Linked DNA regions of Homo sapiens. Each later gene encodes a partner of the first gene's protein in a complex. Each region holds a gene or a part of one and is shown on either strand. Other genes may lie near its edges. The genes, in order: P2RY12 and GNAI2.

What was found.
Region 2: the proteins of P2RY12 (region 1) and GNAI2 are in contact, whole or in part, in a cryo-EM structure (PDB 7XXI), measured with the Homo sapiens proteins. Residues at the interface, in NP_073625.1 of Homo sapiens: Phe59, Asp121, Arg122, Lys125, Thr126, Pro129, Phe130, Thr132, Asn134, Pro135, Ile212, Leu216, Ser219, Tyr220, Arg222, Thr223, Arg224, Val234, Lys237, Ile241, Leu301, Cys302, Lys303; in NP_002061.1 of Homo sapiens: Arg24, Glu28, Ala31, Arg32, Leu195, Glu319, Ile320, Tyr321, Phe335, Phe337, Asp338, Ala339, Thr341, Asp342, Ile344, Ile345, Lys346, Asn348, Leu349, Lys350, Asp351, Cys352, Gly353, Leu354, Phe355.

What each region holds. Positions count from the first base shown.
Region 1 is NC_000003.12:151,374,143-151,390,795, reverse strand, and holds the start of P2RY12 (P2Y purinoceptor 12), read left to right. Parts: upstream 1-6,042; 5' UTR 6,043-6,104; intron 6,105-6,577; coding exon of another isoform or gene 6,578-6,713; intron 6,714-6,907; coding exon of another isoform or gene 6,908-7,017; intron 7,018-8,050; coding exon of another isoform or gene 8,051-8,140; intron 8,141-10,571; coding exon of another isoform or gene 10,572-10,683; intron 10,684-12,622; coding exon of another isoform or gene 12,623-12,784; intron 12,785-13,617; coding exon of another isoform or gene 13,618-13,805; intron 13,806-13,921; coding exon of another isoform or gene 13,922-13,996; intron 13,997-14,581; coding exon of another isoform or gene 14,582-14,770; intron 14,771-16,653. Other genes in the region: MED12L (mediator of RNA polymerase II transcription subunit 12-like protein), read right to left, coding at 661-817, 2,624-2,986, 5,605-5,766, 6,578-6,713, 6,908-7,017, 8,051-8,140, 10,572-10,683, 12,623-12,784 and 3 more. UniProt on the Homo sapiens protein: Receptor for ADP and ATP coupled to G-proteins that inhibit the adenylyl cyclase second messenger system. Not activated by UDP and UTP. Required for normal platelet aggregation and blood coagulation.
Region 2 is NC_000003.12:50,240,989-50,256,929, reverse strand, and holds part of GNAI2 (guanine nucleotide-binding protein G(i) subunit alpha-2), read right to left. Parts: intron 10,021-15,941; exon of another isoform or gene 9,862-10,020; coding exon of another isoform or gene 9,855-9,861; intron 5,311-9,854; exon of another isoform or gene 5,257-5,310; coding exon of another isoform or gene 5,187-5,256; intron 4,831-5,186; coding exon 4,788-4,830; intron 4,534-4,787; coding exon 4,392-4,533; intron 3,907-4,391; coding exon 3,746-3,906; intron 739-3,745; coding exon 610-738; intron 208-609; coding exon 78-207; intron 1-77. UniProt on the Homo sapiens protein: Guanine nucleotide-binding proteins (G proteins) are involved as modulators or transducers in various transmembrane signaling systems.

The DNA.
Region 1 (16,653 bases):
AATCACAATAGAAAAATTTAAAAAATTATTTGTTAAAATGGCACATCCTAACAATGCTGACAGATTTCAAATAATTTAAATATGCTAAAACATGCAATGTTTCATATAGAAAGAAAATTGAATTCATTTTTCATTAAGAGATGTTTTCATTTAGAAAATTTTCATTTGGGACGAGAAATCTACTTGGGCTTGAACCAAAGCAATACTAAAATCAGGAACATTTACTATGGTAGTTTTCCTTGTTGTTATCTAAATCTTGCTGAACCAATTTTCTTAGCTGTCATGATAATTCAGAACAATAAAAGACACTGTGCAATATTGTGTAATCTTTTAAAATGCCAATAAGAATTATATCTGATAAAAATACACACATTTTATAACATAAAACCGTTATCAACTTTTATATCTTACAGCTTAGATTTTCATCACTAGCTAATTTCCTTTTAACACTAAATAAAAGTTCCAAAATCAGTACATAAACTCGTAATTTAACCTATTTTAGAAAACAAAAAACATTTCTGTGTGAAGGGAATTACAGAAATGTCAACTGAGCACTCAGTGGTTGAAATGTCCAAGTTTTGTGGAGGTTTCAGGTTAAAAGCAAAGAGAACCACAAGCTGTTTCTCATCTCTGAGTGATCTGTGCTTTCTCATCACATACCTGGAGTAAGAGATTGGTTCTGAAGGAAAAAGCCGGGCTGCTGGGGCTGGCCCACGAGGTTGTAACCCCACAAGGTGGACTGTGGATGGTGCATCATTTGGGAGGAGATAGGCGAGTAATTAGGAGGCACTCGGTATATGTTGCTCTGTGGATATTCCTTCAACATAAAGTTTTTTAAAAAGTTACGTAACTCCACATATCACACAGCTAATTAATGCAAATAACTTCAGTAAGCTATCTGAGGTACCTCCTATCCCAATGTACAAAGCTGTTTTTTATAAAGGAGAAGATGGAAGGAAGAGTGCTAATAAATCCCCTGGAAATATTCATTTGAGGTAAACTTTTCCTTGACTTAAACAGTGCTTGGCTTGCAGTGGGCAGAGATGGAAAAGGATCTCTTCTGAATTCTATTTCAAAAGACTACAAGTGTGTCAGGAATACCAATACTGAACGACACTCATCACTGAAAAAGCACCTTCAGTTGCTAAGACTCATGATCATTTCATCTTAGAAGGCCTTTCCAATATCTTGGGTCTGGAGAATTACGCCAGAGAGCCCTACAGTGCTTCAGAACCACTCTTTGGCCAAGATGGTATTTCACTTGCAATTTTCCAGACATCGTTCTAAAGAAGTAGACACTCCCCTCATCCCCCATGCTTCCTCTTCCTTATAGTAGCTGCAAAGCCTGTAAGGATCACACCTGAAGGTCTCAATTTCCCTACCTTCCCTCATCTAGTCTAGCCCTAGAGGATGGAAGAGAAACAAAATCTCATTTCCCTGCAATTTTACTGAAGAGCATATCTCATTGAAAAGAGGGAGCTTCAGGAAGAATAGAGGAAGAGGGGACATGACCAGACTGACCTGGGGAGCAGGATTGGTTTCAGGGCTTTTTCATCAGAAAAGAACAAAAGCCCATCCACGTGGACTGACAGGCTGGAAACCCCAAATTTGAGGGAGTGTCAGTCTGGACCATTTTAAACTTCCCTTCAAGACAAAGGAATACTGGTAGGAAGACTGAATGAGAAGGGGGCACTGATGCTCAAGTGGCATCCTAAAGTGGTGGTGGTCATTTCTAAAATAGTATTAATCACCAAGCTATCAGCTAGGAAAAGATGTATTTTAGTTCTCACATAGGTAAACAATAACCAATCATGAATATCTGAATGAAATGGTGAATATTTCTTCCACTGTGCAGCAAGAATGCTGTGGAATTTCATTAAAAATGTCTCAAATCCTCTATCAAATATTTTCCAGGTTTTAATTTAATTTAAATAGAAAAACATTTTATGCATTACTTCTCAAGGTTTATAAAATTATTTCTAAATCACCATCAAATAGATTTCTGTTGTAATGAAAAGATTATTATACGTGGGGAACACTAATAGAGAAACAAGAAGTAAAACTATTTTAAATTAGGCTTATTTTCATCTTTTATAAAGTCTGAAAACATGGTAAAGAAGGAAAATATATGAGGGTAAGATGGAATAGTAAAACATAAAATCTCAGGAACATCCTATTGGCTATGCTAACTCCAAGTTTTATCAAAGAAAAACCAAATAGAGCTTTTTATGTTAATTTACTGAAGATATCAACCACTTAAAATACAATAAATATTTTAGACATATTAAAAATATGTGAGAGAATGGGATTGTATAGTTCTAAAAATTTCAAGTTTCAAACCCGAGGAAATTAGGAGGCACTGAAATATTAATTAAATATTACAATGGAAGCCTACAATTAAAATAAAATTATTAAAAGTGGAGGACGGAAAATCAAAAGCTTTAATCTTTTGTCTGTGACAAGTCATTGTGTGCCATTCAGTTAATGCAGAAACCTGTTAGGAGAACTGTCATAACAAAACTTATCCTGCTCTTGGTAATGTTTCGAGGGATATGATTTGGGCACGAGTAAATCTCATACTAAATGCTAATGAGCCAAGGTTCTCCTTCCTTTCCCCACTTACATCAACTCTTGAGCTAGATTTCGTCTTGCGCTTCCTTCCTTTTGTTTTCTTTTCTTCATCTGTTGTGGTTTTTCCCTGATCTGACAGCTCAGCGGACTTCCTTTCTGGTTCCTGAGAAACTGGAGATGTGGGCTCTTCCTCTTCCTCCTCAGGAGGCAGGGGCAGTGGCTGGAGGTAGTAACTGCGGGGCTTGGGCATGGGGTGTGTGTGATACAGCAGGAGGTGATGCTGCTCCTCGTACTTGATCACTCTTCGGTCCACTCGGACTGTCCCAAACCAGGCCCAGGACAAAGGAGCTGGGTTCTTCTGACCCTCAAACAAGTCCCACGGGGACACCTTCTGCTTCGTAGAGACCTGGAGACCCTGTGGGAAAATAGCGCTCTAAGATAGCACACTCAGATCTTTTCCTTATTCATAGGCCAGGCTTGTATGGGACATGGAGTCAGAGAACACTTTGGCTGGCATGAGCCCTAGAGAACCCGAGAATACAGCAGAGAGGGTTACACAGCTACATCACCGGAGAGCAGTGGCTAGAATTCAGACCTTTGTAAGCCCGGTTCTACAGTTCTTTAACCACATGATGCTCTGTTTAGGCAACAGAGGCAGTCTAGCATATTTTATTGTTAATGTGTATTTCCTCTTTTTGCTAAAAAAATTCTAAAAATTTGTTGCTAAAAATTCTAACACTGCAAAGTTAATCTTACTAAATTATAACCAGTTCTAAATCTCTGTAATCTATTTATAATTTTGAAGATAATATCAAATTTAAGAGTCAAGTTATAGTCAACCTGTAATTGGGTTAGTATTAACTTCAATCCAAATCTGCATGAACTTGGTTCAATATGTGGGCCCTGTACTTAATAAGCCATACTCTGAATATAATATTATTATTAGAGAATTAAATTGTAGCAGCAGGAATAAGTAAAGTCTTTCAACTCAAGCTTATATTTACTGACTCTAGAAAAAAAAAAACGGTTACCCTCTTTTTATTCTTAACATTAATTGGTGACATCTCTTGGCACTTGCCTTAAAATGTCAATTTAAAAATATTTTTCCTTAAATGGCCCCCAAATAACTACTCAGTCATTCCCTAAGATGTAAGTGTTACTGTTGTTATCTATATGCATTCTTTTATGAGTAGCTTCATCTAAAACTAAGGTTCAGGCCAGGCACAGTGGCTCGTGTCTGTAATCCCAACACTTGGTGAGGCTGAGGCGGGTGGGATCACCTGAGGTAAGGACTTTGAGACCAGCCTGGCCAACATGGTGAAACCCCGTCTCTACTAAGAATACAAAAAAAGGCTAGGTGTGGTGGCTCACACCTGTAATCTCAGCAATTTGGGAGGCTGAGGCAGGTGGATCACGAGGTCAGGAGTTCAAGACCAGCCTGGCCAAGATGGTGAAACTCCGTCTCCACTAAAAATACAAAAATTAGCCAGGCATGATGGCAGGCACCTGTAATCTCAGCTACTCAGGAGGCTGAGGCAGAGAATTGCTTGAACCCGGGAGGTGGAGGTTGCAGTGAGCCGAGATCACGCCACTGCACTCCAGCCTGGGTGACAGAGCAAGACTCTGTCTTGAAAAAAAAAAAAAAACAAAGACAAAAACAAAAAAAAATTAGCTGGGCCTGGTGGTGCATGTCTGTAATCCCAGGTACTCAGGAGGCTGAGACAGGAGAATCGTTTGAACCCGAGAGACAGAGGTTGCAGTGAGCAAAGATCGCACTACTGCACTCCAGCCTGGGCGACAGAGCGAGATTCCATCTCAAAAAATATAAATAAACAAAGTAAAACAAAATAAAACCAAGGTTCAATTGCCACCTGTAAATTGACTGTTTCCTAATATTTGTCTTGAGATGAGAACTTTTTCCTTGGTGTAAAAACCACACATCCAAATGGATTCCAGATGTCTTACTACCAGGAAGTCCGCTGACACTGCAAACTCAAACTTGACCATGACTTTAGCTTTTTTTCTTTACACAAACTGGTATTAGATTCTCAGGCTACTCTAAATTCCCTGGTAAATCTGATTCTTTCATGTCTTCATATAAACTCTCCCTTTATTTGTACCACAATTTTCCCTACCTCCCAGCTAACTCTTAATCCTTCAAAATGACTCGTGTCAATTTTCCTGGGGACCCTCTATTCTATCCCCTAATACTCTCTCTGTACCATGTCACACAAATCTCATTACACTGTAATTGTCTGTCTACTTCCCCCTTGAGGGTAGGAACTCTGTCTTTCATCTTGGTGATTGTGGAATGTCGGTGGTTGCTTACTGTTCATTAAAAGAGTAACTGACCAATTTTCTCATATTTTAGAGAACCATCTTTAATATCTTATATAAAACAAATGTCCATTAAATACTGCTTGATAGGAATAGAGAATATCCTAACAATTAAAATAATTTTTATTTGAAATAGCTTACTACAGGAAGGTTTTTTTTTTTTTTTCCCCCCCCAGAGACAGGGTCTCACTTTGTTGCCCAGGCTAGGGTGTAGTGGCTATTCACAGGCATGAGCCTAGCACATTGCAGCCTTAAACTCCTGGCTTCAAGCAATCCTCCTGCCTCAGCCTCCCAAGTAGCTGGAACTAAAGACATGTGCCACCATGCTCAGCTTACAAGAAATTTTTCATTGATAAATATATTCTGCTTCTAAATCTGAAGTATAATCAGAACTTATTTATGCAATTTTTTTTTTACACTAAGCTTTTACTTAGTTTTCTCTTGGTAGGTTTCCAAAAATTTACTTAAATTCAGGGAAACATTTTAAGTCCTTTAAACATATAAAACGTAGATCTTCAAAGATATGACCTCTTTATATGATAATGCCAATGACTAAGTACACTTAGAAGACAAGCATATGCCTTAAAAACATCAACAGCAAAATTAATATATTTTATATATCCTATGGTAAGACAAAAAAAAGTATTTCATCTTTTGTAAATAAATTTATATATAAGAAAAAACATTCACTCTTGCCTGTTTTTTATCTATAGAGTCAAATCCAGCAATTTTGTTTCCTTTTGTGTCAATCAAGGAACCCATAGGTTCACAAGTGATGACATCACATGTCTGTTTCGGCAAAGGTAGTAACTGTCGAACTTTGTCAATACTTTCTGATCGCTTGTCTCCTAGCTCTTTCTAAAGAAAAAAGAGAGAGAGAGAGAGTGAGAAGTGGGACAGAAATTACAATGAAGGCAAAAGTTAACCAGAAGGAAGTTCCCCTATGAAACATTTCCCTTTTTATAGCTTAGCGCATGTTCTTTAACCCTGAACATGTTCTACAAGGCAGTTCCAAATAGAGCAATGAGTGTTTCATTTCTTCTATTTAAGTAGAAAATAGAACACATACAAAGGCACTGTTGTTACACAACAAACATCATAGTGCTGAAATGACAAAAATCCAGGGTAGTGATCACAATCAGAAGACAGGAGCTGCAGAACAGAACACTTTCTCATGTCCAGGGTCAGATTACAAGGTAACCATTGATTTATTTGATTGGTAATGCATCAGATTTATTTGGTTTCTTTTTTGCACTGTTTTCTTACAATTTTTTTTTAAAGGAGTCTGTTAGTGGTCGGTCAAATGAATCGATTTATAAATTTCAATGCAGATGGCTATTTTTTCAATTACACGTGCCAGTCCAAGCATAGAGTTATCCTAAATCTATCTAATGTTAGTATTCTGGTTATATATTTAACAGTGGATTTCTAAAGTTCTTTAAAAAATTAAACATGTTTTATAATGTAATTGTTTTCAATAAAAAATAATCAAGGTTATGTGCATGTAACTTCTGGGTACTAATAAGGTTAGGTGAAACAAATAGCAAATAATCACATTAAATTAAGTTGAATACAATTAATAACATTTAATGAGTAATAAATTAAAATGCACTAGATAATAAATCCATAAACAACTTGAGCTCATAATACAGGCTGATCTCAAACTTACTTTCAGTTTCTTTACTAAATTCATGTATGCACGCTTGTTCTCTTCAGATCCCCCAGGGGATGCATTTGATAGGTCAGAGGCTAACGTTCCATTGATTAAAACACCCAGCATGTCAAGAACTGTTGTGAATAATTCACTAAGAAAGAAAATAATTATTTTCATCTTAAAGTGAAACTGAAATACACTTATTTAACTGAGTATTTTTATTCAAGGCACAGAATTTTTAATAGCATCCAAGTAAATAAGATGTGGCAGAAATCGCCATCAGTATATCAAAGCTTATACCATGCATACATGTAGCAAAATCAATGTGAAGTGATAAAAACATACTTGTTAGTGTGCATGTCAACAGTTCCTGAAGTAATGATCTGAAGGAGTAGCAGGGCCCAGTCTGTAGTCCACTGGGTGCTCCTCTGCACCGTGTCAAACATTCCTCCTACCTAGCAGACAAAATACAGTAAGATATTTGCATTCTGTAAAACAGAAAGAACACCCCATTGCTTTATGTTATCAAATTTTGATTGTTTTTTATTTAAAAAAACAAGGGATGCTCTAGTTTATAGATTACCTTATCTTTTCTCTTTTACCTACATGTTTATCACTATTTTTAGTTCTTTCAGCACAGTTCAGTCATTCAAACATTAACTAAAATGAAGAAGGGACGTGAGTATCTGAATGTGGGCACCAATAAACTTAGCTTTCTTTTGTTCCAAATCTTTTATGATGTCCAGTTTTATGATGCAATTATAGTTGAATTAAACCTGAATAATGTCAAAGTCATGTAATCCAATTATCTGCATCTTTGTGTTTGCTGTACAATTACTATTGAATCTAAGCCTGCTATCATAATACCATATGGAAACATCCACTATCACAGCAGTGGTGGGCAGGAGGCTTGGCCCGCACACCTACCAGTTCACGTGTTGGGACAAGGTTAGAAACAACTGCAAAAGTATCAGGCAGGCCATCCTCCAGAGGGGCCTGCACTTGGGCCTGCCTGATGGGAAAAGAAAACTCAAGGAATGCACAATATGTGAGACATTTTAAATTTCTATAAAACTTCTCTGTGGGATTTGTCTTTATAATCAATTTGATGGAAAGTTGGACAAAACTTTGAGTTAAAAGACTTTTTAAATGGTTTTAAGTAAGTATAGTAGAAGCTAACACTTATAACAGTCTTCTCAGATTTATTCTTAGCACAAACTGAAGAGAAGGAGAGATTCACTGGGGTAGAGGTAGAGAAGGCAAATCTATGCTTAAAATACCTAGCACTGTCTAGATGTCTGACCAGACAGGAAGGAAAGCAGCAAGGGAAACAGAAGGCTTTAGAAACAGGGAAGTAATTACAGAGAGCAAAGAGTGGAAGGCCTCACCTTGTAATGCAGACTTTGCACTTAGGAGAAGTGGAAAGCTGGAGGTATTTTCACATGTAAATATGTTTAATGGAGGGAAAATACTAGAAATGTCACTTACCAAATTTAGGCGGAGTTGCAATGCTTCGTGCATCATCTGCCGCGCTTTTATGTCATCTTGGTATCGTTCTTCTCTCCAGTTACTTAAAATCTAAGATCCGGAAAAAAACTCCCCATTAAAGTTTAATTTTTCTCTCATTTAAAGATAAATTGAGCTTTATACTGATAGCAAAAAACCACTTCTTATCTTTAACAAATTAACAAACAAAGCTAAATAAAATTTTAGCTTTCTTCTTCCTCCATGCAGAAAGAAATCTGGCTATTTATTTGTGCATTTGCCGTTCTAGGTGGAGGAAGAAAATCTTATATAATTATATAGCTAGCCTATGATTAAGTCTGGGAAAATGCTTGAGAGGGCCATCAAATTAAGCATTAATAAAAACTTTTAAAATACATTACCTCATTGATCTTACGAAGAAAAACACTGGAGAGAGAGAATTACATTTTGCCTCAGTCCTGTTATATTTCTAGGGACTTGCTGAACCCTAGCAAATGTATTATTTTGATGTTTTATAGAAGAGAAGGTCTGCTATCTTATGTATGTGTCTTCCTTGATAAAGAGAACGCACGGTACTTTGAAAAATATGGCATTGCAGACATCAGCCAAGTGGCTTTATCAGTTTATAAAGTGGGCTGCTTCTTCACTTCCTCACTGACTCACACTAATGCTGGAAAAGGAAAAATTTGCTTAGGAAAGGGAGCCACAAGTGGGCAACACCCTAAAATCAGATGAGATGAGCAAAAAAAAAGTGCAATTCAAAACAAAAACAAAAAACCACTAACAAAAACCCTATCATGCTCTGAAATATGGTCATTAATGAGAGTCATCTTAAAAGAGTTCAAATGAGTCACATGCAGAAGTACTCCATCCCAACAGATGACCTGTAAGTACCCTGCAAGGTGAGAGGAAAGCACTTCCCAAATCTCATCAGAAGAAATGAACCCCTCCCTAAGGCTGGCTTAAGGGGGCAAGGTAGTTAACTAAACAACAAGCTCTCATGGAGCTCAAATAATAGTAGTGGGACAAATAAAACTAAGTGTAACAAGTGGTTTGAGGCATGGCAATGGCATACAGAATGGCTGTGGTCCTATTTTTAGAGGTGATCAAAGGCCTCCCGAAGGAGGTAACATCTTAACAGAGAACTGAATGAAGGGAGCAGGCCATGCTAATCTCTGGAAGGGAATCTTTCCACCTAAAGGGAAGAAAAGATGCACAGGCACTGAAATGAGAATTTGCTCAGCAAGTTCAAGAACAGTAACATGGCCAGTGCAACAACCATGGAGGAAAGAGGGCCATGACTGGTAGGAGACAAGGTAGGAGAGAGAGCCAGTGTCAAATCATGTCTGGCCTTATCAGCCCGAATTTTTTATACTAGGTATACTGAGGTAATATGTGACTTCCATTTAAAAAGGTTCACTATGATTGCTATATCTAGATCTCTCCTACCCAAAAGGTGAGAAATGACAAGAGGATCAAATAAGATTAAGTGTCCTTGTCCATGTCCATCTAGTACCATTCGAGGGAAAGACATGGTGTCATAGAAACACAGTGCCACAAGAAGGGGTCAATTAGGCTGTGTATCAGGATAAAACACCTCATAAGACCAATCTATCCACTTTGCTTAATTCCATGCTCTCCAATTTCTGTTGTGAATGCTCAGTTTCCTTATAGTACATAGATGCAAGAGCCTCAAACAGTGACCAGGAGAACTGTGTTTGGTGAAAAGGCAATGTCCAAATTATTTCTAAATAAACCAACATGCCTTCTGATTTATTTCTTGTGTACTTGGTTGGCATCAATACAACTGAGTTTCTGAACCTACAGATTTCAAGCTGAAAGCGTGCCTGATAATGTGGCATCCAAGCTTGAGGAGCTGGACTCACTGCCATGCCTACTGCAGCATAGATTGCTCCAGGTCCTCTCCTATGAGGCAGAGTTAGGAGACGGGCAGATAGTTCAAAGTTATATGCAATATATAAAATTTTACTTTTATAGGCAGTACACATTTATTGTATATATCTCATTAATATAAAGTTGTTAATCTTGTGGTGTCTACAATGCCAGGTAGAAGAATAAGGCATGGATTGTTTCTCAGCGTCTACTCAAAACATTTTGTAACCTTACTAGTTGTTTTTTTTTTTTTTTTTTGAGACAGAGTTTCACTATTGTTTCCCAGGCTGGTGTGCAATGGCGCGATCTCAGCTCACTGCAGCCTCTGCCTCCCAGGTTCAAGCAATTCTCCTGCCTTGGCCTCCCGAGTAGCTGGGATCATAGGCGCACACCATCATGCCCGGCTAATTTTTGTATTTTTAGTACAGACGGGGTTTCACCATGTTGGCCAGGCTGGTCTCGAACTCCTGGCCTCAGGTGATCCACCAGCCTCCGCCTCCCAAAGTGCTGGGATTACAGGCATGAGCCACCACACCTGGCCCTTATTAATTTAATCTCAGTATTTGAAAGGCAAATAAATGAATGCCGTTAGAAAGATATTTGCCTGTCTTAATATTATACTATACTTTACCTGGTTAACTTGATTCTGGAGAGATGTTAGGAGGCCTTCCCTTTGTTCATCTTGTCCCTTAAGGCAGGTAAGTACCAGTGAGAGGAAGGGTTGTTGACTCAAAAGAGACATACTACAAAGGAAGTAATAATAACAACAGATCTAGTTAGAAATAATGCATTACTTCCTCTGGCAACATTCATTTCTTTGCCTCACTATTAGATAAATAAGAGAGGTGGTAAATAGCCAAAGACTGCTTGAAAATTTAAATCATACCTCTACTTATAAAATTAAAAGCCACTGTAATGCTTCTAAATCACTTCGTATGCTCTAATTGCCCTCGAAGCCATTCTCAAACTAGCATCAAACCATACTGCATGTGAGCATGCCGGGCAGTGAGGGTAGAAGACAGTGAATTCATCTTCTACATCAATATGCAGAATTTAAAAATGTACATCAGAAAGAATATCAATTTATACACAGGATAAAATTAAAAATTTTTAAAGTTCTCATATAAAACTCTTGTTTTAGAGTCTGGGAAAACAGGCCTATATATATGTCTGTTGAGCTTGTTTTGGGGTTTGATTTTGTTTTTCAGCACATTTCCCAAGACCAAAAAGCAGGGTGTTAGTAGAGCTAATTCATCAGCCAGGGCTGAGGACTCCAAAAACAGTGTACTTGCTGGCGACCCCTAGTGTGCAGCTCCAACACAGCCCACAGGCTCCAACATAGCCCGCAGCATCCACTGGTAAAGAGGTGTCAAGGCATTTGGTTAAAAATTCTGTTTTAAATTGGCATTTTAACAAAATGTCTTCAATTAGAGAATAATCAACAAATCATATTGACAAACAAAGCGCCATGTTGGAAAGACAAATTTCTTAAAATGAGACCTAGGCCAAAATATTTCAATCAGCATTATTCTCCATGGGCAGAATAAAGAGCCCCTGATGTGGGAAGAGCGATCTTTCAAGTCTCTTCAATACCATCTGTCCTGCCTATGGGAAGTTAGGCAATGCACATACACTCACCTATCAGCAAATATGATTTGAAAATTAGAATTATGCTTCCTTGTTGGTTAATTAATCCTGGCCAACATGGTAAAACAACCAGATGTAAAACAAATACAGTACATACAATGCTGGGTCTCTACCAAAATGTACTGTAGTTAAGAGCACAAGCTCAGAAGCCAGACCTCCTGGATTTAAACCCAGGCTTTATGTCCTTCACTGTGTGTCCTGGAGCAACTCATGTAACCTTTAAGTGTCTGTTTCAACATGATATAAAGAAGATAATGAGAGTACCTACCACATGATTGCTATAAGAATTTTAAAAGCTCATGTACATAATGAGTTTTAGAGAGGAGTTGCCATTCTGTAAGCAGTCAATAAATGGTGGCTACTATAGTATTATTCATTAGTGGACAAGAAATCTATGTGCTTAAAATATTTTTTTAATGGAAGAAATTATCAATTTTTTTCCTTTACTCCTAGGTTTCTTGGCATTTTCACATTAGGGTGAGGTTTCTTTCTTTCTCAGTAACACGGTTTTCAAATATAATTACTTGAAACCTTTTCTTGGGCATAAAATAAATTAAGAAAACATTAGTTGTGGTGGCCGAGGAGTCTTAATGTCTAGTCTAGAACAGGAGCCCTAAATGTTAAAAATATGAGCAACTAGTTCAGACACCAACATGCCAGAATTATACATTATATTTATTTTAAACATAAATATCTAAATAATAAAAAAATAGAAATAATTAAAAATAAAATACAGGGATCAGGTAGCTATCCAGATCTGATTCAGTTGGTCTAAAGCGGGTCTCGGAAATCACTGTTTTTAACAGTTCAGCAGTGATTTGGATATAAAGGCAGAATTGAGAACTAATGTATTAAGGATTATAACCTGAAATTTTTTAGGAATAAGACAGCCTTGCCTAATAGAATATTCCCAGTTCCATTTAAAAACTAAATTTCAGTGGACTGTGGGTACAGTGACCACACAGGTTTACAGGAAGTGAGACTTTCTCAATTATTCTTTAAACTCTCACACAGACGCCCATCTTCCAGCCACACCTTTTCTGTTTCTGTCTGTCCCTTTCCTTTTTGGAAGAAGAACCCAAGTGCTGTCCCTTCTCCAGCTCTTCCCCAGCGGCTTTCAGCACTCTTCCTTGCACAGAAGTTGGCAACCTGGCGATGAGGGGGGCCACCAACCATACACCCCTGCGTTCGGAGGAACTAAAATCAGAAACAGGTGTTACACCGGAGAAAGCATCCTTTCCCCTGCTCTCACAGTTATAACAGAAACTCCAAAGCGAAACTTTGATGTATGAGACACACAGACTGTTCTAAAATTTCCCTTTTATTTCTGTATTATCTTTCCTTTTTCCGAACACTAGACATTTGCATGAGCTTTCCACCTAAGCCTACAGAAAGCAATAAAACATGCAGTTCTGGAAGGATATTGTAACTAAACTGACTTTAATGTTTTCCGATGACCCCCTCTCTCTAATTAAAAACAATCACTTTGTCCAACAAACAATATACTTTTCTGTCACAGTTACAATATGAAATATTATATGTAAGCATACTAATAGCTAATTTTTAAGGTTTAAAATTCGCTAGTTATACTTTATACCAAAATGATGAAATACAAATCAGCCTTTCATGATTAAATAATTACTTTAAGACTTTATATGCCTACTGGTTCTAATTCTGCACAAAAATTACCAGGATATATTTGTGCAAAATAATTAATTAATAAAAATGGTGGAAAAAGCGTTTCCCATATAATGAATACTACGTAACACAGTAGACTAAGGGACACTGAAAGCATGAACCAAACCTGAGTTCACCTGCAGTTTCAAGGTGTTTAAGCCTACTCAATCAAATATTCCGAAGCTATCATTCACCCCAGCTTTACTCATTAACTTATTAATAATAATCCCTGCTTACAAGTAACTATGTTCTTCACATTCCTATGACTTAAAGAAAAATCACTGTGCTACACAAAATTTACCGTTACTTGTGAAAAATTCATGACAGTTCAATAAAACAACAGACAAAAATACCTTAGGAATGTCTTTATTCCATTCTGTCTCGTGCTACTTGTATCAGCACTTCCAATACTGTTTGGGTTGAAGAGGCTCATGCCAGAATTAGAAGAATTATTTAGGTCTGCAGACTGCTGGAATACCTCTATTGTTGCCTTTGCAATATTGTCCAGTAAGTTGTTCATTTCGGCCACAGAACCAGAGCCCTAGAGTTAGATATAAGAATACTGGCACATATGTGTATTCCTTTATCCTCAAACATCAACGTGTTTTTGCTTTTTATAAAATTTCATACAGAGATAAGCTTTCAATATAAACTCACAGGGTCCTTCAAGCACTGTTTGATCATTAGCTGGAGTTCTAACCAGGATTGCCTCAGTGTCCACTGCTCAAGATTCTGGGAAAAATGGAAAGAATTAAAACATTATGGGTATCAAATGTGTTAAAATACAGTAATTTCTTACAGTACTCCTTCTCTCAAGAAAGAGCAGAATAATCATACACAATGAAATAATTTATATGAGTCAAAAGGTTCCCAATCTTGCTGCATATATATTCAGTAGCGATACAAACCAATAAACAGAAACATTAATTATTAATTAGTTAATACTGTGCCTGACTCAGCTATGCACTGAAACTAAATAAGCATTTCTCCTTTCAAAATCTATTTAACCAATCCCAATCCAAAATGATTTCAATATTTCTTTAATAATATATTTAACATAGCCCCTCTCTGAAGCATATTTCTCATGTAAATACAATACTGATTTAAAATATCAATATTTGTTTGATGATCATATACAATTTGCAGCATGTACATCCACCCAAAAATAAAGTATGTCAATTCCACAGAAAATGTGTGGGAATAAAAATCAGAATTGAAATCACAAATTAGCAAGGACAAAAAAAGAGAGGAAGTAACTCTTTTTATTATTACGAAGAATTTATCAAATGACAGAAACACAATCTGTATACGACTGACCTGAAGAATACGCTTAATGTGCTGTCTTTGCAGATTGTCCCCCTCGGTACATTCTTTAATGCCATGAGGATAACAGATAAGCTGCAGTAATTTCTGTGCTTGCATATTTGAAAGCACAGGGTCCAATATAAGTTCTTTGTCTGTACATAATCTTTCAGGTTCTTTTAAGCAATGCTCTCCTACCCATTCCTAAAAATAATATGGCAATTAGATTGACAGGCACTGGCTTTCGGTATATATATATGCAATATGTACTAAATCCACAGTGCATAATTGAATAGAAAACTGATAGGAATTTTCCAATTTAAAAAATTACATTAAAAAGTAGGTAGAAAAATTTTAAAAAACAAAATTTTTAGCATTTTGGCTTCTAAAAAATACAAAGTAGAACTTGCTTAAAAACATTTTTTAATGGGAAAAAAGAAAAGACAATAAAGAGAATATTAGTATGTTTTTAACTGGAAAGTAAGGTCTTGCTCTAGGCACTATTTTGTGTCAGTTTTTTCTAACTTGCTATATAATGATTCTATCAGATATACGTTCTTCATAATTTTTATGGAATACATTGTACTATCTCACTGACTAGATACAACATAGTATAACAAATATTTAGAAAACGATCTTCCTTTTTGATACTATTATGAATAATGTTATCATTATAAATGAGTAGTAGTGCACATCTCTTTTTTATACAATAATTTTCTTAGGGTAATTTCATAGAAGTGCAATTGCTGGGTCCAGTGTGAGTGGGGGGCTATAGATGCATGGGGTTAATGACCCTCTGAAGAGTTTCTACCAATTTAAACTCCTATTGCCTTTTCTTTACCATTTTTTTCAAAGGCAAATTATTATACTAAATAAAGTAAGAAATCATCAACAGTAACAGAGCCCAATTTGAACCCAGATCTATTTCGGGTGAAGTCTGTTTTTTAACCACCATACCAGTGGCTCAATGCTGGTTGCCCACTAAAATTACCTGGGATCTTTATAAAATTCCATGCCCAGGGCCCACATCAGACTAATTAAGTCAAACTCAGGTGGTGGCACCCAAATATCAGTAATTTTTTAGGCATCCAAATTGTTTTAAATGCCCCAGCTGATTCCAATATGCACTCACAGTTGGGAACCAACACACAATTGCCTCTCAATACTTATATGACTATGTAGCTATCTTTTACCATAGTTATAACATGCCTGTAAAAATACAAAAACATGACCCAGTCGGTATGACACCTATAGCAAAGTACAAAATAATATATAAGGTATGTCACTTTTTTTTTATAAGAGAACTTTTAAAACAAATATATGGGAGGGAGAATAAACCAAAAAATAATAAAACTGGATCATCTGGTAAGAGGGATATGGGAGGGAGACACATCTCTGAGTATACTTTTTTGTATAGTTTCACTTTTGAAAGTAAGCTATTCTATAGCCAGAGCTGGGGACAAGAAAGGAATTTAAATAATGCAAAACCAAATGAACCTAGTTCTATTTCACATAAAGAATACACTCATAGGGATGGGAAAAGTTCAAATAATTTTTGAACACAGTATTTTAAACCCTTAGAGAAAATGGAATTGCAAACAAATCTTCAAAGCCTTTTAGGTAGGTTTGTTCTTCCTAGTGGTATGTGTGTAACATTTCTTTCTTTCTTTCTTTCTTTCTTTGAGACAGAGTCTTGCTCTCTTACCAGGGCTGGAGTGCAGTGGCGCAATCTCGGCTCACTGCAACCTCCGCCTCCCAGTTTCAAGCGATTCTCATGCCTCAGCCTCCCAAGTAGCTGGGATGACAGGCATGTGCCACCACACCTGGCTAATTTTTGTATTTTTAGTAGAGATGGGGTTTCACCATGTTGGCCAGGCTGGTCTCAAACTCCTGGCCTCAAGTGATCCACCTGCCTCAGCCTCCCAAAGTGCTGGGATTACAGGCTTGAGCCGCTGCGCCCTAGCCTAGTGTACATTTTTGATACTGTATTTTAATTAATCATTTTTTGACAAAGCGCTGGATAGCACATTTAACATGCCCGGCCATGTGTAACATTTTAAAACTATTTCAGATGTATCATAGAATTA
Region 2 (15,941 bases), about 100 Mb from region 1:
TAGAATAGCAAGGTCAACGCTAGCCACCACTCCCCAAGCCCGCTGCCCCCACCCGCAGCATTCTCTCATCCTCTCACCATCTCCTCGTCCTCAGCTAGCACCAAGTCATAGGCGCTCAAGGCTACGCAGAAGATGATGGCTGTGACGCCCTCAAAGCAGTGGATCCACTTCTTCCGCTCAGACCGCTGACCACCCACATCAAACATCCTGCAGATATAGATCACCTTAGTTCCAGGAAGGGAGCCTGGGGGAGGCTTTCTACCCCATTTCTCAGGTTGGCTGACTGAGGACAGAGGCCTGCCCAGAGTAGGGCAGCTACCTTCTGGAATCATCCACACTTGCCCACTTCACCCCTGGTTCTGGGCCAGGAGCTTGGACAGCAGGCAGGCTGCAGCCACATCAGGCAGGAGCAGCAGAGGCTGTGAGCAGCTGGCAGAGGTGGCGTGGATCCTGACTGCTGGTTCACTAGGTGGTGAGGATGTGCTTGCCCAGAACACATGAGCCTTGTAAAACCTCAGTGGGGCTGGGGGATCCTGGACCAGCCCCTGCCTCTGCTACCCCAGAGGCTGGCAGGTCCTGCCCCTCCCACCTGTCCACATGCTCGCTCACTTGAAGTGTAGGTCCTTGAAGGTGAAGTGTGTCTCCACGATCCCCGTGGTCTTTACGCGGGTCCGTAGCACATCTTGCTGTGTGGGGATGTAGTCACTCTGTGCAATACGCTCCAGGTCGTTCAGGTAGCTGGGGATGGGGGGTGGGAGGGTCAGTGGGGGCCAGCATGGGGCTTCCTTAGCTGGACCCTGGGCCAGCTGCAAGAGGCCCCTTCCCTCCCATGCCATTTCTCAAGCACAGCCCTTGCTTTTTTTTTTTTTTTTTTTTTTTTTTTTTGAGACAGAGTGTTACTCTGTTGCCAGGCTGGAGTGCAGTGGCATGATCTTGGCTCACTGCAACCTCTGCCTGCCAGGTTCAAGCGATTCTCCTGCCTCAGCCTCCTGAGTAGCTGGGACTACAGGCGCCTGCCGCCCAGCTAATTTTTGTATTTTTAGTAGAGACGGGGTTTCACCATGTTGGCCAGGATGGTCTTGACCTCTCAACCTCAGGTGATCCGCCCACCTCGGCCTCCCAGAGTGCTGGGATTACAGGCGTGAGCCACTGCGCCTGGCCTAGGCACAGCCCTTGTTTCTTTAACCCCTGCCTGCATTACCTCATTGCTCAAATGAAGAAACCTGAACTCAGAGCCCCCGGCCTCCCACCTGTAGAATGGGAATGGGAGGAGGTGCAGCTCTGTGGACAGCTAGCCAGCCAAGCTCCAGCACCCAGGGTCTGAGCCAGACCTGCCTCGGACAGGATCCAGGATGTTGGAGCTATAGGCAAAGAGGGTGGGAGGAGGCAAATTAGTCCTTCGGTGAAGGATTCAGGATGCTAATGGGCGCAATTACGGCATTAGCCGCAGAGCAGCCGGGTGCGGTCCCTCGATGTGGTGCTGGACAGGTTGGGGCCTGCCAGGTCCAGTGGGCTCTTTGCCCAGCGCCCAATGAAATCTGGGTTCCTCAGGGGGAGGGCACAGACACCTGCTTGGCAGGGGTCCCAGGGGCTCCTCATTACCAGTTCCCTTAATTAGTATCAAGGCTACCCCTGCAGGGCCTGCCTCTGCTGCCTGCCTCAATATCCCTGCCATGCCCTGGAGGCTGGTCCCAGGCCTCCAGGCTGCTGCCCAGAGCTGACTTTTCATTCCTGGGGCAAGGCTGCTGGGGCTGGCCCTTGGCTCCCACCAGCACCCAGGCCAAACCAGGCCAGAGGGAAATGATCTCAGAGTAGCAGGGACAAAACAGAAAAACAGGAAGGGCCATGGGGAAGGATGACGCATGTGCTGTGACCCGCATACCATGCCCCGCCCCCTACTGCCAGAGTCCTCAATGTGGAGGTACCATGGTGCATTCCACACCAGCCTCTCCCTTTTCCCCAACAGGTGGGTTCGCCCCAGGGACCCCCTGACTCGCTGCACACTTGGAGGGTTGCTGCGAAGAGGGGCTGAAGGAGCCCTGCTTCCTGTGGTGTTCCAATCCGCAACCCATTCCCAGGGGGAGCTATCAAGGCTTAAACCTGACTGGGAGAACAGGGCCTGTATTCACTCCCAAAACTGTGCTGGGCACACAGTGGGTGCCTAATGTCTGGAGAATAGAGAAAGAGGATGATGGAGAAGCAGGAGGTGGCCTGGAGGTGGCTCTATTCCTGCTTCCTTTGAGTATCATGGGCACCAAGGTCCCTGCTGCTCTGACCCCAAGCTCGCTGGTGGCTGGGCCAGAGATCTCAGGGAGGGGCAGTGGTGAGGCCTGGGGGCCCCCACAGCATTTGGCTGTGACTCCACAGCTCCTGTAGGGGGTACATATTCACAAGAGCATTCAGGCCATGTAAGAAGGGTAGGAGGAGGCTGTTCATGTGGCTTGGACAGGGCTCAGGAATCACAGCCAGGCAAGACCCTCCTCCTCCTCCCACCCACCCTTGCTGAAATCCACCCTATGGGTAGGCTCAGGATTGGATGAACAATAGGAGCAAAAGGGTGTTCCAGTCAGAGGGGACTGGCTTAAGCAGAGATAGGGGAAGGCTAGAGTACAGGGACAGCAGCCTATCTGGTGACACCATCCAAAGCCTGTGGATGTCCCCTGCAGCCATCCTCAATGGCTATTAGCCTGTCTATCCTGTTCCCCGTGGGGTCCTCAGCACCCTGCACCAGTCCAAGTACATGACAGATACCACAGGGAAGGAGTTCAGAACTGTGGAAAGGGTGCAGGCTTGTCATGCCTCTGGGATTCCTGGGACCCCTTGTAATTCCTCAGCCTAGGGCCAGCGAGGGTCACAGCTGAGGTCCAGGGGCTCTGACCTACACACACACCTGTCACCTCCCAGATAACTTCCTCCCCTGTGGCCCCCTCCAGCCAGCCTCCACAGCCTATGTTCAAGCACAGCCAGCTCCCCACCACCCCGAGATGCTGCACATGCTATGCCCCTGCCTGGAATCCCCTCATCCACTCCTCCCCTGGCTGACTCTCCTTCAGAGCTCAGCAATCCTGTCTCTGGGCCAACTCCACCTCTACCTTTTCACTAACACCCTAAATTGTCACTGCATGGGGACTTTGCTCCACTCATCACTGTGTCCTTGAAGCCTGGCACAGAACAGGTGGCAGCAAATGTTCTGAGTCTTGCTCTGTCACCCAAGCTAGAGTGCAGTGGCGCAATCTCCGCTCACTGCAAGCTCCACCTCCCAGGTTCACGCCATTCTCCTGCCTCAGCCTCCTGAGTAGCTGGGACTACAGGCGCCCTCCACCACGCCCGGCTAATTTTTTGTATTTTTAGTAGAGACGGGGTTTCACCGTGTTAGCCAGGATGGTCTCGATCTCCTGATCTCACGACCCGCCTGTCTCAGCCTCCCAAAGTGCTGGGATTACAGGCGTGAGCCACCACGCCCGGCCGCAAATGTTCTTTAGAAGACTGTCAAGACAGATCAGACTCAACTGGCCTGGAAGAGATGTACTGTATAAGCCACCTGCCTGTCATTCCTCCTGGCCTTTCAGTAACGTGACACCCACCCACCCCCCAAACCAAAAAACAGGAAGGCCTTGGTTAACAGTCATCGGTTTCATAAGCAAAGACCAGCAGTGTCCTTCTGGGGGTTCTCAGGCCCTCCGGTCCAGCCTTTAGTCCTCCCCCAGCCCCTGCCCTGCCCTGCCCAGCCCCTCAGAGCACTCACTAGGCAGCTGAGTCGTTGAGCTGGTATTCCCTTGAGCGGCCAAAGCAGGCCTGCACACCATGGTCAGCCCAGAGCCTCCGGATGACGCCGGACAGGTCATCAGGGAGCACGCCTTGCTCCTCGGCGGTGCAGGACAGTGCAAATAGCTGCCTGGCGTCGTCCTGGGCACAGTGGCGGGTGGTCAGGCAGTTGAAGGAATGTACCCCCACTCTGCCAGAGGCAGGGAGACCTCTGGAATGGGGCCCAGGCTAGGGTATTCTTGGATTCCCTAGGATGAGACTTGCCCTAAAACCTTTTTGTTGTTGTTGTTTACTTTTTTCTGTGACGGAGTCTAGCTCTGTCACCAAGGCTAGAGTGCAATGGGGCGATCTTGGCTCACTGCATCCTCTGCCTCCCGGGTTCAAGCAATTCTCCTGCTTCAGCCTCCCAAGTAGCTGGGATTACAGGCACGTGCCACCATGCTCGGCTAATTTTTGTATTTTTAGTAGAGACGCGGTTTCACCAAGTTGGCCAGGCTGGTCCTGACCTCAGGTGATCCACCCGCCTCGGCGTCCCAAAGTGCTGGGATTTATAGGCATGAGCCACCACAACCAGCCACCCCGAAACCTTTTGGGAGGTGGGAGAGGGTGGGGCGGAGGGCACATACCGCTCTGGAGGGGTCGGCAAAGTCGATCTGCAGGTTGCCCATGGCTTTGACAATGGCCATGATGGACTGGATGGTGTTGCTGTAGACAACCGCCCGGTACTGCCGGCATTCCTCCTCGGAGTAGCCATCCTCGTGGATGATCCTGATAGCCAGGGACCAGGAAGGTTAGTGTCCCCTGGGCACTGGGAGTTCCCACGGCTGCCTGGGGCTACTGGGACCTGCTTCAGAGAAGGGAAAACTGCCCCTGACCCACTGGGACCTGAGGGTCCTTCTGCTTCTCAGAAGATTCTGGGCCTGGCTAAGACTGGCTGGGCCTGTAGTCGGGGGCAGTGCAGGCCCAGAGGGTGAAGAGGGGAAGCTGGAGTTTGAGCACTGCCTCTGGAATACAGCACTTACTTCATCTGCTTGACGATGGTGCTCTTCCCTGACTCCCCAGCACCTGGAACAGAGGGCACAGGTGGTCAGGGGGCAGGCCCAGAGGGGCTCCACAGGCACAGAACAAATGCCCAGACACCTGTAGCCCAGGAGGCAGAACTAACCTTCCCACCAGCTGCACCGTGAGATGGAGGCAGCTGGGCCTGGTGGGCAGTTGAGCTACCAGGAATGCAGCTGGCAGGGCCACAGTGGTCAAGGTAACCTAGAGCACCTGTGCCCCATGGCAGACTCTCTGCAGGCCTTTGCCTCCCACAAGCTCTGCTGCCCACCATGGCTCCCCACTGTCCTGGGGGGTCTTGGCTGGAGACTTGGCCAGCCATGAAGGAGCCACCCTGTTCTCACATACATAGGCTCGCCAACCTGTGCAGCTGGTGCATGCCAATATGGTGCCCTGGGCAGAGCTGGCAGGAAGATGCCCTGCATACTCCATCCAACAGGGTAGCAGCCCTTCTTCTCCCCACACTGAGCCTTAGCAACCAGGGGCCTAAGCAGGAGCACAGCGTCACACTTCAGCTTTCTGGACATGGCCCAATGCCCCGCCCTCTGCTCACTGCGCTCAGGTCTGCCCTGAGCAGATGGAGGCTAGAAGGCTAGAATCTAGGAGACCTACAGTGTAACACACACGCGTACTGACTCATGAATCTGGGAGACCTGCGGCGTATCTCACACACCCACACCCACACACGCCCATACTGACTCAAGCTTTTCCCTGGCCTGGTACAGCCCTGGCCCATATTTCTCTTTAGCTGGTACTGAGATTTGCTGCATTCTCTCCTGTATTAGTCACAGCAGATACTGTTTCTGTTCCCATTCTACAGATGAGGACATTGAGGCTCAGAAAAATAAAGTATTGATCTAAGATCATGTAGCCAGGACTCAGAAGGGCAAGAGGGTGGAGGGAACCCATGATGCCTGGTCCACCCTGCCATTCTCAAAATGTGGCTGAGACCCTGCGGGACAATGCCTTGGGGAGGTGTTTAAAAAAGCAGATTCCGCCGGGAGTGGTGGCTCATGCCTGTAATCCCAGCACTTTGGGAGGCTGAGGCAGGTGGATCACCTGAGGTCAGGAGTTCGAGACCAGCCTGGCCAACATGTTGAAACCCCATCTCTTCTAAAAATAACAAAAACTAGCCAGGCGTGGTGGCAGGTGCCTGTAATCCCAGCGGCTCGGGAGGCTGAGGCAGAAGAATCGCTTGAACCTGGGAGGTGGAGGTTGCAGTGAGCCGAGATTGTGCCATTGCGCTCCAGCCTGGGCAACAAGAGCGAAACTTGGTCTAAAAAAAAAAAAAAAAAGCAGACTCCCAGGTCCCATCCCAGACAACAGAGCCAGATCTTGAGGAGTGCAGCCCAGGAGCCTGTATTACCCAGGGAGTCTGTGTAAAGAAGGACCAGGGGGGCCACCCAACTCCCTGGCTGGGGGCCAGAGGGAGTGGAGGCAGGGCCTCACCTTGACCTTGCTCCCTTGCTGCTGGCTTGTCTTGAGCTCCAGGTTGAATGGCCCCCAGCTGGGCCCTGCTGTCCTTCCCAGACCCTGTGCTCCTGCTCCATCACTGCCAGTCACACCTGCAGCTGCCAGGCACTACCTCTAGCTATCTCCAGGGCCCTGCTCATGCTGTTCTCTTTGCCGGGAATACGTGCCCCATGCCCCATTCACAGTGTCCCAATTCTGATCACTGTGGCACGTTTGTTCCTCTGTGCAGCTTAGCTGGGTGGGTAGTAAGGTCTGTGCAGAGGTCAAACTTGGGTACTCTGGCCAAGCTCAACAGCATCCCTTGGGGCTGGTCAAAACAACCTCAGAGGATGAAGGTGCTAACACACAAACGAACACAAGCAGTAACAATAACATCGGCAATATCGACAGCAAAGCTATATGAAAACAGCGCCCACCATGTGCCAGATGCTGCTCTACATCAATGACACCCACCAACTGCCATCTCCACAGCAATCCTGGGAGGTAGGTTCCATTCTCACCCCAATCTAACCAGTGAAGGAACTGAGGTCCAGGGAGGCTGAGGTCACAGGGTTAGAGTCCCCTCTGCAGGGAGCACACTTGCCCACCGTGCAGTCCCTCCTAGAGCTGTCCTAAGTACCTGGTACTGCAGCGGAGCCACACAGTCCACCTGGCACTGGGTTCACTCCCTAGCTCCCCAGGCAGACTCTGGGCCATGTCTGCAGTGCTCAACAAGCGGCAGCAGGCATTGGGACATGGTGGCAGGCCTTGCCAAGGCCCCTGCCCACCTTCAGCCCCCTACGCCAGAGACCACCCTGAGGGGAAAGGCCTGAGCCCTCCTCACAAATGCCATCAGGCGCCTGCAATCACTGAGCTTCTGACTGTCCCAGGCCTGCTTTCCAGGATGAGGGGAGGGGATCTGGGGAGATGGGGAGTGACAGCTAGTTGGGTATGAAGTTTATTTTTGAGGGTGGTGATTATGTTCTGGAATTAGATAGCAGTGATGGTTGCACAATCTTGTGGACATACAAATGTGCAGGCCCTGGGAAGGCTGGGGCGCTGTGGCTGGGGCAGCAATCCCCTCTATTGCTTTAGCCCCTGGGCACTACAGGGGCCGGGCCCAGTATCTTCACTGGGGTGTGTACCGGGATATATACCAGCACCACTCCCTCCCCATTGGGCTGTGCATGGCAAAGGGGCAGCCAGGATCTGCATACCAACACTCCTCCACCTGCCAATGAGGACATGGGGAAAGGTCCCAGGAAAGCCTCACAGCGATGCCTGAACACTTAAGGCCCATCCCCCTGGGGCTCAAAGCACCCACTGGGGCAGGGAGGGCAGCAGTGGCTACCTGACTGTCTTCCCCACTGGCTCCTCCAGAGCAGGAGGAAGAACCAGGAGCCAGTCACAGCCAGGATGGGGGGAACTGCAGGAGCAGAGGCCAAGGATGCGAAGTCATGGGTCCCCATGCAGTCCCGAGCCAGGCGAGCTCAGACTCAGCAGGGAAGCTACCCAGGGCATGGGGGACCTGAGGTCTAGGGTGAAAGCTTCCCCATCTTGTGTGACTTCGGGACTCCTGCCCACTTGAGGCATCAGTTTCCCTATCTGGCCACTGAGAGTGAAGAGGGGGTCTGGCCTTTTGCCCACTCTTAGTAGGTGATGTGGGCCGCTTCGTGACCCTGCCCAGGGACGAGGGTGCAAACTTGCTTTGCATCTGATTTTCCTAGCAGCAGCTAGACCTGGTAGACATGAGGTAGGCAGCACAGAGCCAGTCACACTAGGAGCCAGGATATCTGCTCCCTGCCCCAGCCAGGGAGGGCCCACTTCCCTGTCCCCTTCAAGTTTCATTTTCCCCTCCTAAGGCCTCTTAAATGTTAAGAGAACATTCTCTATCCCAAGCAGGGGTCACTGAAAAAAGAGTTCCACTTGACAGGTAAGCAAATCAAGGTCATGGAGCCCCTATCCCTAGACTCAGGCTGGTCTCTTTGTCTTTCCAGCAGCTGTGACTCAGGCGGGAAGTAGTGAGTGGCAGGACAAGGGTGTGGTGCTGGCAGCCAGGCAGGAAGCAGGGGGAACAACGGGACAGAGGCAGGGGCACAGCCCAGGAGCAGCTCCAGCAGAGAAGGGGGACAGGAGCAGAGGTGGGTGGAGCCCCAGGATGGCATCTGGGTGGAATGGGTGGGGTGAAGAGCTCTCGGGCAGCCCACAGGCTAAGTGCCCTGGCAGCTGTGGGGTAGTAGCTTCACTCTCCCCATCTCTGGCTGGGTCCTCTTTCCATCAGGACCTGAGGGATGCCCCCTACCAGATAAGCTGGCAAGAGGCTTATCTGTGAGTTTTGCACACACCCAGCTCCCCTCGCACCTGCCTCTCAGAGGGGTGGCTGAGTCCAGATTTTTTTTTTGAAACACAGTCTCGCTCTGTTGCTCAGGCTGGAGTGCAATAGCATGATCTTGGCTCACTGCAACCTTTGCCTCCCGGTTCAACCTCTGCCTCCCGGTTCAAGCAATTCTCCTGCCTCAGCCTCCCCAGTAGCTGGGACTACAGGCATGTGCCACCACGCCCGGCTAATTTTTGTATTTTTAGTAGAGACAGGGTTTCACCATGTTGGCCAGGCTGGTCTCGAACTCCTGACCTCAAGTGATCCACCTGCTTTGGCCTCCCAAAGTGCTGGGATTACAGGCGTGAGCCACCGCGTCCAGCCTGAGTCCAGATTTCTGCAAAGATGCTGGGTAGGGGAACTGAGGCAATAGAAGGTGGCATGAATCAGCCCCTCCTGCCCGCAGAGGGCCCCACCAAGTGCTCTGTCCCCAGCTGGGTAAGACCAGAGAGGCCTGCAGAGGTTCCCTGGGGTGGCCTTGGCATTCCCACTGAGTCACACCTCTTCCCACCAAGGAAGAAACCTCTGCAGCCTTTGCCCTGTGGCGCAGTTAGGGCCCACAGCAGGTAGGCAGTAATCATAGTGATGTGCTGGGTGGTGGCAGCTGCTCTGCACTAGAACATCTGCTTCCACTTTGGGAGTGCTGAGCCCCAGAGGAGGGAACCGATGAGAGAAGGGAGACAGTACCACTCCACCTGCGTGAACAAGACCAGCAGGGCCCCTGCAGCAGGAGAGACAGGCCCACAGGTCTTGTCACTTGATGCTTAGTCCAGGCCCCAGCATTCAAGTCACAGCATCTGTTCATCTTGGACCCTCTAACTCCTTAATAGGCTTTGATCTGCTGGGAGGCTGGGACTTGCTACTATCCTTTCTGGCTTCAGTTTCCCCTGGGCAGAGCTGTCAAGCCTCAAGCAGCCAGCCAGCCTGCCTCCCATTTTCAGATCCTCTCCCAGAAGGAGGTCCAGACTTGCCACAGCCCTGATGTCCACTCTGATCCTTCCTGAGATCCTCAAGAGCTTCAGCTCCTTTCCTGCCCTTTCTCTGGCACCTCATCTGTGAAATGGGACAACGCTGTCTCCTTCTGAGAGATGGGTAAGGATTAAATGCAAAGCTCTTCTCACAGTGTGGGGCACATGTGAGCATTCAGGTAAAAGTTATCACTATTTATCTACCCTTTGAAAGAGTACAGATTTCCCCAAACCTCTCATTTCCTGCAACCTGCAGAGAAGACTGCTGTGGTCATCTCATTTGAAGGAAAGCTTCTGAAGATTTTCAGATAAAGAGCAGATGAAGAGCAATGGACAGCGGCTAACAGGCTGATTCAGAGCTGTGGTGGTTCCCTGCTGGGACTCAGCATAACCTGGGACAGGAGTCAGAGCTACTGGCTCCTCTGTTGGCTTTCCGCTGTGTCGTCACTTCCCTTCAGTATAACCCGGCACTCCTACACAGCTGGGGCCTCCTTCCTGCCCAGGAGCCTCACTGCTGACATTGCTCACTGGCTGCACACACCCAGAAAGCCAGGCACACCTCCCTGGAGAGAACCCCCATACTGGTGGGCTCCGTGGGAACACGTGGGGCCAGGAAGAGCAGCCAGCTGACGTGGCAGGCCCGAGGGCAGAGATTCTCAGAAGCAGCAGCGGCTGGGACCACAGGGTAGACTTGGGCAGCGGCCCAGCTCAAACCCACAACACCAGGCCCGCCCACACTGCCACAACTCCCCAGCCTATCCCAGTGGGATATGGTGGGGCAGGTGGGGGTAGCCCTGAGCCCACCACAAAGGCAGCCCGGACACCACCTCCTTCTCTTATCCCAGGAAGGTGCCACATCTCCAGCTCAGCCTGTGGTTCTCAGATCCCGTGCACCCCCACGTCCCCTGCAGTCCTAGGGACCCATGCCCCGCCACCACCAGGGGGCGCCCGGCAGCCGGAGACACTGTGGAAGGAAGTGGGGGCTGGGCAGCACTGGGGAGCGTTTTGTTTCAGAAAAGCAGCCTCAGCCAGGGGCGACTGGGGAAGGTGTCCCACCCACCAGCCCGTCCCTGGGAAGCCCCCAGCCTGCAGAGACTCGGCACACACAGAAACCATGGCAACGGGAGGGAGGGGCAGAGACCCCGCCAGACAAAGGCCCTCTGAGCCCCGCCCCTGGCGTCTCTTCCTTCCTCCAGGTGCTGCTCCCCGGCCCCCCTCATTCCCTCCGAGAAGGCTCAGCACGGGTCCGGCACTGGGAGGCAGGGACTCGAGGTCTTGAAAGGGACCGGCAACACTCCCACCCATGTGTGTGGCATGGCCCTATAACGGATGCCTGAACAGACCAACAGACTCCACACCTCCCTCCCGCCAGTCTCTGGCACTCGGCTGCCTCCAGCGGCTTCCAGGGGTTCACAGTGCCCAAAGGGGAGCACTACCAAGCAGGGCCTGGCTTCCTACTGCCAAGTCAGAGATCTCTGTGTTAGGGAAACTGAGGCCTCAGGTCCTGCCCACACATGGGAAAGTCTTTCTGGGGCAAGGTGTGTCTCCCTCAGTGGGGCCCTTTCCACTGCACAGAGGGAAACTCAGGCACCGGGTGAGGAAGGCTGGCCTGATATAAAGGAGGCCCCAGACCTGTTCATCGCTGGCGCCTCAGGCCCCAGGTACCGCCTGTGCAGGAGCCAGGAGGTGCTGGACAAGACGCGGATCACGCGGAGCTGGGCCATTTGGCACCGTCTCCCTGGAGGCCTCTTCATTTCAGGCATCCCTCCGCTGTTCCCAAGGCACCTGAATGACCTCTTTTCCCTTCTGATTCATGGCGGTGGACTCTGGGAAAGATAACGGGAGCCTAGGCCTCATCTATGAAATGTACCCCTTGAGGGAGGGTGCCAAACCCAAGGCCTGCCCTGAGTAGCCTCTTCAAAGTCACCCCAAACTGCCTCAGGGCCCAACCCAAGCCAGCAGCTGTCCTTGTGTCCACAGGCCAGGAGACCATGCTAAGAATCACGGCACTGGCGGGGCGGGGTGGCTCACGCCTGTATTCCCAGCACTTTGGGAGGCTGAGGTGGGCGGATCACCTGAGGTCAGGAGTTCGAGACCAGCCTGACCAACATGGAGAAACCCTGTCTCTACTAAAAATACAAAATTAGCCGGGCATGGTGGCACATGCCTGTAATCCCAGCTACTCTGGAGGCTGAGGCAGGAGAATCACTTAAACCTGGGAGGCGGAGGTTGTGGTGAGCCGAGATTGCATCACTGCACTCTAGCCTGGGCAACAAGAGCGAAACTCAGTCTCAGAAAAAAAAAAAAAAAATCACAGCATCACAGATTCTAGTGCTGGATACAGAGAGGGAAGAGGACAGTCTGAGGTCTCATGGTGAGGAACTGGACCCTCTGGGACCCACAGTCTTGGGTGGCCATGAGGATGCACGGGTCTCTGCTCTGTGCATGGCTTCATGGCCCAGAGAGGCTTGGACGCTTCTGCTCTGGCTCTCCTAAGCCTTCCTCAGCCCCCTCAGTCCCTTACGGCCTGGCCTGGCAACACAGCAGAACCCCTAGGAACCCCTACAAGAGAGGGCAAGGCCCCACTAGGCCACAGCACTGAGATTCGGAGGCCAAGGAGCAAGAGGAACCAGCCTCAACAACTATCATGCAGTCATCAGCCAACACCATGGCCACATTCTACCACCACACAGTACCGTACGTGCACCCAGCACTGAGCCTGTGCTCACAGTGCAGCCCTAAGGAACATGCTTTCATTTCACTCCTCTGGACAATTCCCAGTCTCAGAGGCCCTCACCATGGACTTCAATAGCTTCTGAGCCTTCCCCAGGCTTGGTCTCAGTCTAAGACTGGGGCTTATGGGAGAACAAGCATAATATTAGGGAAAGAATGAAGTCCTAAATTGCCAGCTATAACTTGAGCATCACTGTGAGAGGATACGGACTAGGAGAAAAAGTGGGAAGTCAAAAGGTGCAGCTGCAGCCGGGCGCAGTGGCTCACACCTGTAATCCCAGCACTCTGGGAGGCCGAGGCAGGCGAATCACTTGAGGTCAGGAGTTCGAGACCAGCCTGACCAACATGGTGAAACCCCGTCTCTATTAAAAATACAAAAATTAGTTGGGCGTGGTGGCACGTACCTGTAGTCACAGCTACTCAGGAGGCTGAGGCAGGAGAATCGCTTGAACCCAGGAGGCGGAGGTTGCAGTGAGCCGAGATCATGCCACTGCACTCCAGCCTGGGTGACAGAGTGAGACTCCATCTCAAAAAAAAAAAAAAAAAAAAAGGAGTGGAGGGGGTCCCCCATGACCACATGGCTGTAGAAAGCTTCATACACAGAGTCTTGGGTCCCACCTTCCAGGACAGACAGCTCCCTTTCCGCCTCCTAAAAGAAGAATTGAGGCCCGAAAGCCAGGGCCCATAGGCACAGGCAGAACACACACGCACCCACACCGTCTGCCTGCTGTCCTGCCTGATCCGTTACTTCCAGCCAGCACAGACTCCCAAAGGGCCATGGCAGTTGGAGGCAGGCGCTTAATCACTACATGGGTCATGTCCTGACATCTCTGTTCCCTGTTTAAGTGCATAAAGTCCCTGAGCTTCAGTTTGTCCATCAGTGAAATGGGTGTAATATCAGTCCCAGCCTCACAGGATTAAATATGACAAGATAATGAAGAATTCAGCTCCACACAACAGTCAAGGCTCAATCAGAGACAGCTGTGGTTATCACCTGAGGGGAAACAGGCCCAGTGAATGCAGCCCTAGACCCAGTGAGTGGGTGCTGGTAGGGGAGAATCCTTAGGCTGAGGCCAGGGATCCTTTGTCCGCCCCCCAGCAGGGGAAACCCAGAGTGAGCTCATCTCGGGGCTGTTGCTGCATTTCCAGGCATTCATCTCAGCCTGTGGCTGGCCTTCCGGCTTTGGAGAGCAATGGCCGCTCGGGAATCTAAGAGCAGCCCTCTGCCTTCCTGCTAGCCCTCCCGCCAGCGTCCTTCTCCCAGCCACAACTTCCTGTGGCCAAAGAAGGGGCCTGGAATCCTTCTCGAAGGCACCACCTTCTCTGGGATCTTGGGCCCGATGGTTGCTGGGGTGGGACAAGGTACAGAGCTACCTGGACTGGCTCCAACTCAGTGACCGCCACTAGAATGGCCCACAGGAGTGCAAAGATAAGCCTGGGCAGGTGTTCACCTCCTAGACCCTTCCAGTTGGCAAAGCCCTGGGGGGCCCTTGGGCTCTCACCCCCACCCTAGCACCAGGCAGCCCTCTGGCCTCTTCCTCTTTTGGGCTCCTCCTCCCCCAGCTGCTTCCTCCTTTTCCTCTGGTGTGGACACCACTTCCCCGAGAGGCCCAGCCCTGCCCTGCCATGTCGTGCAGACTTCATTACCTCCTCCTCCCGCCGGGGGCACACACAGTAGGTGCTGCCATCACCTCCTTTGCATATCCTGAGGCTGTCAGCAGCCTTGGAGCCCCCAGATTCCTCCAAGCCATAAGGATATCTTCTCCCCAACAAGGCTGAGATGACCCCACCTTTAGGCCTTTGCTCAGACTGGTGTGGTGCTGCCTTTCAAGCCTTGTAAATGTGCACAGAGGCCGGCACAGAAGAACCAGCCCAGCAAATGTTTGGTTATTCCAGAAAGATTCTTCCTCCCCAGCCACCAAGAGCAGCCACAGCCCCAAGAAGTAACATCAGGGTGAGGGTGGGGTTGGGGTTTAGTAAGAACGAGAGCTTCAAGCTAGAAGGGCTGGGTGGGGCTGGGCAGACGGGGTTCCACCCTGCACCTGTAGCTGAGGGAAGGGCTGCCTGAGAGCATCAGGTACCAGGGACACCATCAAAGGGCCCAATCCTTTGCCTTCCCCAAAGCACCTTGCAGAGCACTCTTAGGCAGGGTGTATCAGCAGTGGCCTGGCCAGAACCTGCTGACCCCTTCCCCTCCTCGCTCAACTCCTAGGCTGGGATTCCTGGCCTGAGATGCTGGGAAGATGAGACTACTCCCTGGCCTGTACCTTGCCCCCATCTGCCCGGTCCTGCCTCCCCCCACAGCACAACGGGATGTAGGGGAGGCAGCACTCAGGCTCTGGGGTGACAGTCTCCTCCTCTGCTGTGGGTGGGGTGGGGGGAGTCCCTGGTTCCTCAGTGGCTAAGAGCTTGGGTGGACAAAGCTTCCTCCATCCTGTTCCCGCCAAGTGAATGGGTGGCTTTTAGAGACAGACTGAGAGAGTCACAGCCAGGGACCAAGAACTAAGATCAACGGCAGAGTATACAGGACCTGTGTGTCTGCCTGTGGCCCAAGTAGCCCCAAGTGCACCTACTGCCCCACCCCCTGCAGTGCTGGAGGCCTAGGGACCTTGCTGGGACCTGACCACACCCCACCCTCAGCACTACCTGCTGCCACTTGCCAGGCAAACTGATGTTCAAGGGCCTGGGACATCAGTGATGGCACTCAGTGACCCTACCTCTCAGGCCACCCAGGGCCAACCGCTGACAAGCTGCCCAGGGCCAAAGGGGTCCCGGACCATCCCCAGGCCCCATCCAGCAGCCTAGGCTCTGACACATAGTGGGTGGTGTGATGCTGCCTCAGGGCTTCTGACATGGAAGCCTGTGTCCCGCAACTGGTTTGACTTCCACCTCCTGCCACAGCAGCGCGGCTCATTCTCTCTGTCCTCACACCTGCTCTGCCCTCTGTCTGGGGTTCCTCTCCCCAACCCGCCTGGGATGCCCCCAGCTGAGCTCCAGCTGCCCTGATTCACCTAGTCTCTCAGCTCAGAGGTATCCCTTAAAGGACCTAGTCTCACTCCTACCCTAGAGGTATGACCTCATGTTGGCTGCACTGACACTGGCGTGAGAGGCAGGGGCTGAGCCTAGCAGAACTGGGCAGGATGCAGGCAGAGGGGGTCAGCTATAGCTTGGACCCCTGTTCACTCCTTAGTGTGGGAGCTCTATCCCTGCCTGCTCCTGCAGACAAAGCCCCGACAAGCCTGGGGGAGGGGTGGGAAGAAGAGACTCAGAGGCCCAAGCCGCCCCGCCCCCCATTCAAGTGCTAATGAGCTCCAGCAGTGAAGGAGAGGGCTGGGGTAGAGTGTAGGGGCTGGAGGCCAGCCTGGGTGGGTACTGGCCCACCTGGCACCCAGGGCCCTACCACATCTCCAAACCTAGACCCCCAGAGGTTGGGCCTAAGGTCCCCAGGGCAGTCTGTCACTCCTGCTGGCACCAACTATCTGCACGCCTTGGGCTCCCCACTTGCTGTGAACAGCTGCCTGAGGGCAGGGGAGGGGGTTCCCTAGGGCTCCAAACCCAGGCCAGGCAGCCTCTAGGATGGGAGACTC